2 linked regions of the Homo sapiens genome follow. The protein of the gene in region 2 purifies or fractionates together with the protein of the main gene of each other region. This does not show direct contact. Each region holds a gene or a part of one and is shown on either strand. Other genes may lie near its edges.

The links.
Region 1: the proteins of SEMA3C (region 2) and NRP1 purify together in Homo sapiens (co-immunoprecipitation; one large-scale study listed by IntAct). This does not show direct contact.

Annotation. Positions count from the first base shown.
Region 1 is NC_000010.11:33,177,416-33,181,234, forward strand, and holds the end of NRP1 (neuropilin-1 isoform a precursor), read right to left. Parts: intron 2,951-3,819; coding exon 2,661-2,950; 3' UTR 78-2,660; downstream 1-77. UniProt on the Homo sapiens protein: Cell-surface receptor involved in the development of the cardiovascular system, in angiogenesis, in the formation of certain neuronal circuits and in organogenesis outside the nervous system. Mediates the chemorepulsant activity of semaphorins.
Region 2 is NC_000007.14:80,915,959-80,920,255, reverse strand, and holds the start of SEMA3C (semaphorin-3C isoform 2 precursor), read left to right. Parts: upstream 1-1,204; 5' UTR 1,205-1,428; intron 1,429-3,436; coding exon of another isoform or gene 3,437-3,474; coding exon 3,475-3,577; intron 3,578-4,297. UniProt on the Homo sapiens protein: Binds to plexin family members and plays an important role in the regulation of developmental processes. Required for normal cardiovascular development during embryogenesis.

The sequences.
Region 1 (3,819 bases), on a different chromosome or scaffold from region 2:
TTGGAAGTTATTGGATAGTGGCATGTCACCAACTTCTTTAACTAGAACAGTGCTAATATAATAAAAGCCATCAGGTGTGGGATATTTTATGAAAATGTTTAATTCAACTGTTTCTTTGGAATGTAGTAGTCATAGTTTGGAATTTAAGTTACAGTTCAGTTCTATGTGGTTTTTATGCTACTCAGTGTCTGAGAATACAAATGTCATTTAAAGTTAAGGCTTCGCTGTTCATTTTGAAACAACAATTTACAAGTGTCATATTGTCATAGAAAATAATAATTTCTGTAAAAAAAATCTGCACAAAATCTTATGATGGTACAAAACATGAAGCAATAATATACCAGTAAAATGAAAACATTTTACTACAGAAAGTTTTATAGATTTCCATAAAGAAAAAATATGTTATTTTACACCTTTAAAAATTACAAAACAATCTAAAACAATATAAACTGAACATTTTGTAACACTGCCTTTACAAATTAATAACTTTATAAACATATAATTTTTAAATATATTTATCAGTGCAAGATACTTTAAATTTTAAAGTTGCAGTATCATTTTTCCTTGGCTGAGGACAACTTTAAGTCTGTTGCCTTTAAAAACAACAAACGAGTGTTTCTTAGTGCTTTCCTTCTGGTAGGATTATATCAACTAAATGAATGTCTCTGGGGACAAAAAACTATTCTTCTTTCATGGTGATCAATATTTTCCTGGAAACAAAAGGCATTCTCAATCCAATTTAACTAAGATGAATGGACTGTCTCGTCTATGATGCAAATGTGACTCCCAACAAATGTCTTTGAGTGAGACGTCTAGCAATGTGGGAAGGAAGATCTAAAAAATCTCATGTCCAACATGGCATGATAAAAATCCACCAAAACCAACCAAAGCTTCTTTGGGTTAATTCATAGGCTGCCTGGTAAGATATTTGCTTCCCTGTGCTGTTAGAGGCTTAGATGTTGCCAGCCCTAAGGCAGGCTTATTCTTTGTGAGCCGCTGGAAGTTTCTAGAAGCATTCATTTAAGTCTATTTTTTCAAGGTTGCTGTTATGAATTTTTAAAACATTTGTTTGACTTTATGTGTTTTTCCCCCTCTTATCTTAAAATACTTGACCCCCAGGCATCAGGATTTATAGTTTCATTCTTAAATTAACTGTTCTTCCTTCCACTTCCCTTGTGTGACTCAGTAGCAAAATAAGAAAGTTCTCTTGGGTCATTTTTGCATATTTGGATAGAAAAATCTCATGCTTTTGGATTTGGAAGATTTTATCCAGTTCTTCCTTTGGGTCTCACTTGAAAGCCAATTTGTATTATTTCTTTCCTCAACTTATCACTATTTCTACTAAATGCCAACATTTCTATCAAAGGTCATTTTGAATAGAATAGATAAGGAAAAAAGATACTGTCACTTTAACCAGTTAACAAGAAAACCAAAGTTAGACTTTGGAGGGCAAAGTTAGGAATTTCCCTTATTTATTTATTTTTAAACATAAAGTCTAGTAAAATCGTTTGCCATTCCCAGCAGGTTAAAGCTGCAAGTTTCTTTCCTGGACAATGGCAAATCCTCCAATTCTAAGAGAGAAAAAAGACAGAGAGATAGGAGAGAGAAAGAGAAGAGAGTTTACATTTGAAAATACATTCCATATGAAAGAACAATAAGAGAGAATATTGTAGCTTTATACAAAAGGGTCAAGAAACATGAAATTGAACTACAGAAAAAGCAGAACAATTAAGCCACGTTGCCAAATCTTCAGAGCCCTTGCCTGCCCGGAGGGGCTGGCATCTCACACGAAAATAAACTTTCTTCTTAGTCAGTGGGCCACCAGAGTTTGATTAAAGAGCAGGGCTTTCACCAGCAAGAAGCAGAGTGGGTCGTTAATGTAACACAATGAACCAGTACAAACAAAAAGGCACTTGAGAGGACATAGACTAGCCAGTGCCAAGGATTTGTGTTTTTGTTGTTGCGGTTGTCAGCAGTATACCCAGTGGCCAGCCGTGTTCAGGGATGGCACCGTTTTCTGTATGGAGTTCACAAGCACGAGGTTTAGTACAACACCGGAAAAACAGCAAGAAAACTGGACAGTATTGCTTCGTAAACAGAGCTGACACACTACACCAGTACTGAGGCTACAGTACTTTAAAAAGAAAACAGCCTAATCCTTCTTTGCCTATGCACGACGCGGGCAATTATACACAAGTACAACTTCAGGAGTCCACTGAAATGCGGTGATTCTAGTATATTCTGGGCACTGGGTTTCAGGTAGCATGTCCATCCAAAGGGCCACACGGAATACGCTTGGTGCCAGCATCTTGGATTTCGCTCAGTTTCCAAAAAGAATCCACAAAGGGGAGAGGAGAGAGAGAGAGAGGGGCAGGAGGGGTCGAAATGAATGATTATGTCAATCATACTTGGTCTCAACACCAGCATCTGATTATTCAAATGAAACCAACAGGAAAAAAGCTGACTGCACATGAGTCCGATGGTGAACACAGCTCCTTGTCCATGTCTGTCGGCCATACTCATTGAAGCTCCTGAGAAAAGCCTGGCTCAGTGGTCATCAACACACTTCCCAGCCTGTATAGTGAAAGATCAACAGCTCCCCAGCTCACTCCCGTCCTTCCACTTCCGTCCTTTGACTGTCTTTTCATCTCTGTCTGCCTTCATGCCTCCGAATAAGTACTCTGTGTATTCAGTTTGTCTTTTTTCAACTTCACACCATCCACAAGTTCAAAGTTATAGTTCTCCAGGGCAGACAAGTTTCTTTCTGACATCCCATTATGCCAACAGGCACAGTACAGCACGACCCCACAGACAGCCCCCAGGAGGACCCCCAGGGCACTCATGGCTATGATGGTGATGAGGATGGGGTCTAAGGTCTTCAACACATTGCCTGGCTTCCTGGAGATGTTCTTGTCACCTTCTCCTTCACCTTCGTATCCTGGCGTGCTCCCTATGGAAAAAAACAATATTGTCTCCGTGAGCACCGCCAACAGACCAGATGAAAGCAGACAGAAAAATAGAAAGGAACGAAACAGGAGCAAATCACACACCCCAGTTTTGCCTGTCATATCTGACTCATTGTTGGGAACAGAAGTGTGGGAGGTGGTAGAGGGGAGTGGGCGCTGGGGCTTCTGACAGACTGCTTAGCACGTGGAAACAACCCATTCTGGATCAACTGGGAGGTTCCTTGCTCATCTAACTCAGATTTCATGCAGCCCCATCTGTCCTAGATTGTAATCTGTGTTTACAGTCCTTGGCTAGATAGGTGATCATTAAGTTTTGCAAAATGCTTAGTCACACATTAGTCTAGCAAGGGGATTTTACCATTCCCAGTGCATGTACCTAACCCCAAAACAGGCACAAGAAAAACCTTCATGGCTGCCCTTCTACGTGGTGCTGTTTCCAGGATCTGGCATGGTTTATGCATGTGTTTGTTCTCCCATATGGAAAATCTTCAAGTGAAACGAATTTTGCCCAAAGTCTACAGTAGTTTCAGTAAAGAAGGAGTGATTTTTTAGAACAAGAGAATGCTTGCTGCTGACATGTAAACAGAGTGTGGCTCAAATCGAGAAACCATGTCTGTCATGCCAAATAGAAGACATTTACTAATAATCAGCATCTTTGCAGCCCTGGTAGTTTAACTGGAGACAGTTGCACTGCTCTGCAGCTCAGTCACTGGGGACTTGTTTTCTTTGGAGTGGAACAGGAGAAATTGTTAACATGGGAGCTTTGAGCCTAATTACCTGGTACTAGAAACGGGATGAAAATGTTAACGCACAATATGCCTGGGGTTTACTTAATGGTGTTCTGATCAACAAA
Region 2 (4,297 bases):
TCTCCCGATGTTTAAACATCTAGTTTATTGTGGTCCGGAGAAGTAATTTTCACTTAAACATCAAAGTCAGTTCCAGAGTTTAACGAGTGTACCTGAAAGTAATGCTGGAAAAATACCTCTGATGTATTTCTGTAGATGTGTGGTTATGGCAATCTGTTGGCATAACTCAGAACAGCCTCTCCACATAGAATTGTCAAATAATTTCTTCGTGTAATTATGTTTGGGAGTATGGTTGGGGACAACGTACTGGATATGAGTCAACGTGGAGGGGTCAACAGAATTACTGCTTTCAGGGCATTAAGGAAACTCAATAGGAAACAATACCCATTAAAAGGATACACTTGTGCAACAAGATTGTCGTTTATCTTGACCTGTTTTAGAAAACACGCAACAGAGGCCCGGCGCGGTGGCTCTCGGCACTTTGGGCGGCTGAGGCGGGCGGACCATTAGGTCAAGAGATCCAGACCATCCTGGCCCTGTCTCTACTAAAAATACAAAAATTAGCTGGGCGTGGTGGTGGGAGCCTGTAGTCCCAGCTATTCAGGAGGCTGAGGCAGGAGAATCGCTTGAACCCGGGAGGCGGAGGTTGCAGTGAGCCATGATCACACCACTGCACTGCACTCCAGCCTGGCGACAGAGTGAGATTCCCTCTCCAAAAACAAAACAAAAAACAAAAAACAAAAAACAAAAAAAAAACGCAGCAGAATAAGGACAAAACTCACGTCCTTTTAAAAACGCATCTCTTTGCCTTAAAAGGCTGCAGTGATCCTTCCCTGGCAAAAATAAAAAACCACAACTGCTTTGCACTTTGATATTTACGGCCAGGCAAAGCCTGTGTAAGTCTTCGAGAGCCGCCGGCAACAAAAACCGTGGAGCGCACCCAGCAAGTTGCTCACTCCGCCGCGGACTGCGAAAGGAGCAGGGTTGCGGAGCTAGGGCTCCAGCCTGCGGCCGCGCATTCTTGCGTCTGGCCAGCCGCGAGCTCTAAGGGTCGGCCCCGCCCGGTCCGCCCCCGCGGCTCCCTGCCAGGCTCTCGCGGGCGCGCTCGGGGTGGGGCCTCGCGGCTGGCGGAGATGCGGCCGGGGCTGCGCGGTGGTGATGCGAGCCTGCAGGGCGGCGCGCCGGGGCAGCCGGAGCCGCGCGCCGCGGCGCTGTAATCGGACACCAAGAGCGCTCGCCCCCGGCCTCCGGCCACTTTCCATTCACTCCGAGGTGCTTGATTGAGCGACGCGGAGAAGAGCTCCGGGTGCCGCGGCACTGCAGCGCTGAGATTCCTTTACAAAGAAACTCAGAGGACCGGGAAGAAAGAATTTCACCTTTGCGACGTGCTAGAAAATAAGGTCGTCTGGGAAAAGGACTGGAGACACAAGCGCATCCAACCCCGGTAGCAAACTGATGACTTTTCCGTGCTGATTTCTTTCAACCTCGGTAAGCTAAATTGGTCATTTTCCGCATTACAGATTTAGCAAAGTATAACTTTTTTGGCCTGTATATTGATTTTTCATACATTGGTATGCTCAAGCCTGGACATTTTCTTAAGAACACACGCGGTTTGTCAGGGAAGCTTTCCCCTTGCTGAGAGCCCTGCTCGAGTTGTTTCTTTAGGCGGTGACACCTGCGGAGAGTTTCAAGTTGAGTATTACAGTGCCTTCAAAGGCAAAATTGCTCCAGAGGAGATAAGAGAATTCTTTTCTTAATGTGTTGTTAGTTTGCGATCAGCAGAAGTGAAAACACCAAGAGGAACGTCTGTGTCTGAGTTAAAGGGAAGAAGTTGTAAGATACTGTTGGGGAGGCGGGGGTGTATTTAAGACACTTGGCTTTCAGTCTTTCACTCCTCATCACTAGGTGGGATGTAAATCAAATTGCCCTGTAGACTATCTTCGTTTCACCTGCCATTGTATCACCAGTATTCTTTGCAATTGGTTGTATATGTACTTTTGGGAGAAACATATAAGGTAAGATACCAATATGTAAAAAAAATGTGTAAATAATATCAACTTGCTCAGTAAACATAACAAAGGTTAGGCATATTAATAGTTTTTTTCTTTTGGCTTTAACTATGAAGTCAACAGAACCAAGGGGTAAATTACTGAGGGAAAGTCACCCATAAAATCAGTTTCTTTCTAAGTTAATTTAGGGATGACAGGGTGAAGAGGTTGTGGAAGCAGGAAGAAACTGTTTCTTTTGAAAATTACCAACACAAACATCTCTAGAGTTTCCTCCATCTGTGTGGTAAAAGAAGCGTACAATTTCATTTCTAACTCTCATAACATATGCACCACCTAGGAAATCTACTTACAATTTTTGTTTAAAATTGCATATTCCATTTAATTCTTTTTATTCTGTATTAATGAAGCTGTCTTTTTCAGTTGTTAGTGGTTCTTACAAAGAATTTAATAATTTTGACTATGAAATTTTAATTTGAAAAGCCAAATAATGAAGATCAGCATTGTTGTAACCTGTAAAAATAAATTTCTTTACTGGACTCTTGGGTCACTTTATTGTGTAATTATGGTAGAAGCAAAATGATTGTGTTTCTTTAATGGTCCTGAGTTTATTTTACATGATGTAGCCACTAGAGCTCCTGTAGGTTTATGGTAACACATTATCTGGTCTTCCTTGGGATTCAGATATTAGTTAATAGCATGTACCAATTTTATATCTATAGTTTGAAGCAGTGACACCTGTCTCTTTGATTTATCTTTGGGAATTTTGACAGCCCACATTCTGGTTGATTTATTTAAAATATGCATTGGTGGATACATGGCTCACTGGATTGCTCACCACTAGGTCATTGGTTTGAATTTGGCACTAGTCCATGGTTACTTCAACTGCATCATTTAACAACTGCCTGTTGGTCATCTGGATAAAATGGCAGATAACTGATTCCAGTGACTTCAGTGATCCAGGATTGAGCACACATAGATTTATGTAAGGAAACACCACTTCCAGAGACAATTACTCCAAAAGAGCTAATGACTATTGAAGTGAGTAGGTACACATGAATGCTCATGTGAGATTTTGCTGCTGCTGTTACGTTAGTGGGGGGAAAGAGTTCTCATCCAGTAATATTCTTTTAGCTCAATTCTATTCAAGTCTTTTTAATGTAATGGATTTCTAGAGAGAAGATCCGTTAAAATATTGGGCTTTCCTTTGGGTATCAGTGTTTTTCTTCACTGCTTTGTTCTGTTTTGATGGTAGCATCAATTTGCTGGAAGATGAAAGTTTCTCTTGTTGCAAAGACTTCCAGACACAAATGAATCAAATCCACATTTTCACATCTGAGAAGCAAAGACACAGCACCTCCTACTGTTTGCATTACTGTAAAAGTTCAGATGGTTCTTTTGTGAATAGGGTGTTTTGTCTAGATTGCTGTTTTTTCCTACTCCTAAAATGTGAAATGAGATATAACAAACATGTTGTCTCTCTCTTAAAGGTATTTTCCCTTGGATATTAACTTGCATATCTGAAGAAATGGCATTCCGGACAATTTGCGTGTTGGTTGGAGTATTTATTTGTTCTATCTGTGTGAAAGGATCTTCCCAGCCCCAAGCAAGAGTTTATTTAACATTTGATGGTAAGAGAGTTGATAAACACTCTGGGAAAAATGTTATTTTAAGTTTTGTTATCTTCCTTATCCAGATTCAGAAATTAAGAGTATAAATATTACTGGATATTAATTTTAAAAATATTTACTGGGCTGCGTTTTGGAGGACAATAGCTATTTTAAATGATTGGTTAATAGACAAAGATCCTCTGTTGGATTTGAGGTATTTATGAAAATGCTTATAATATATGCTGCTTTTTGTAAAATAATTCTTCTGTGCTTGCCTGTGTACTCACAGAGGAGATGGGCACGAGCTCAAAGCCTAGCATCTTTGATCTTACTGTTCACCTGGTAATGTTAAGAAATTGCCCCTTTGTGCTAATCCTCAGCAGCAGAGAGAGCTATGCAGGTTCAATTACTAAAAAATTCTCCCAATTAATTTTTTGGGCATTAGTCTCAAAACTGGTTACTCCGTGTGTTGTTCTAATGGTGTTTCTTCTTTTTCCACAAGGATTTCCTGAGATTGGCATAGTCCCCTAATTAATTGAAAAGGACCTAAAAGAATAATTGGAAATATGCTTTTGATGGTTGTTGTATACAAATGTTCTCAGAAGCTTAGGGAAATGGGTGTGATTTCAGATTTTCACATACATAAAAGGTGCAAGGTCTTCTGAGGGAATGGTTTGCATGAGCTTTAATGTATATAGTTCAAAGGACTTACAGATGAATGAATTTGGTTAGTCAAGTAAC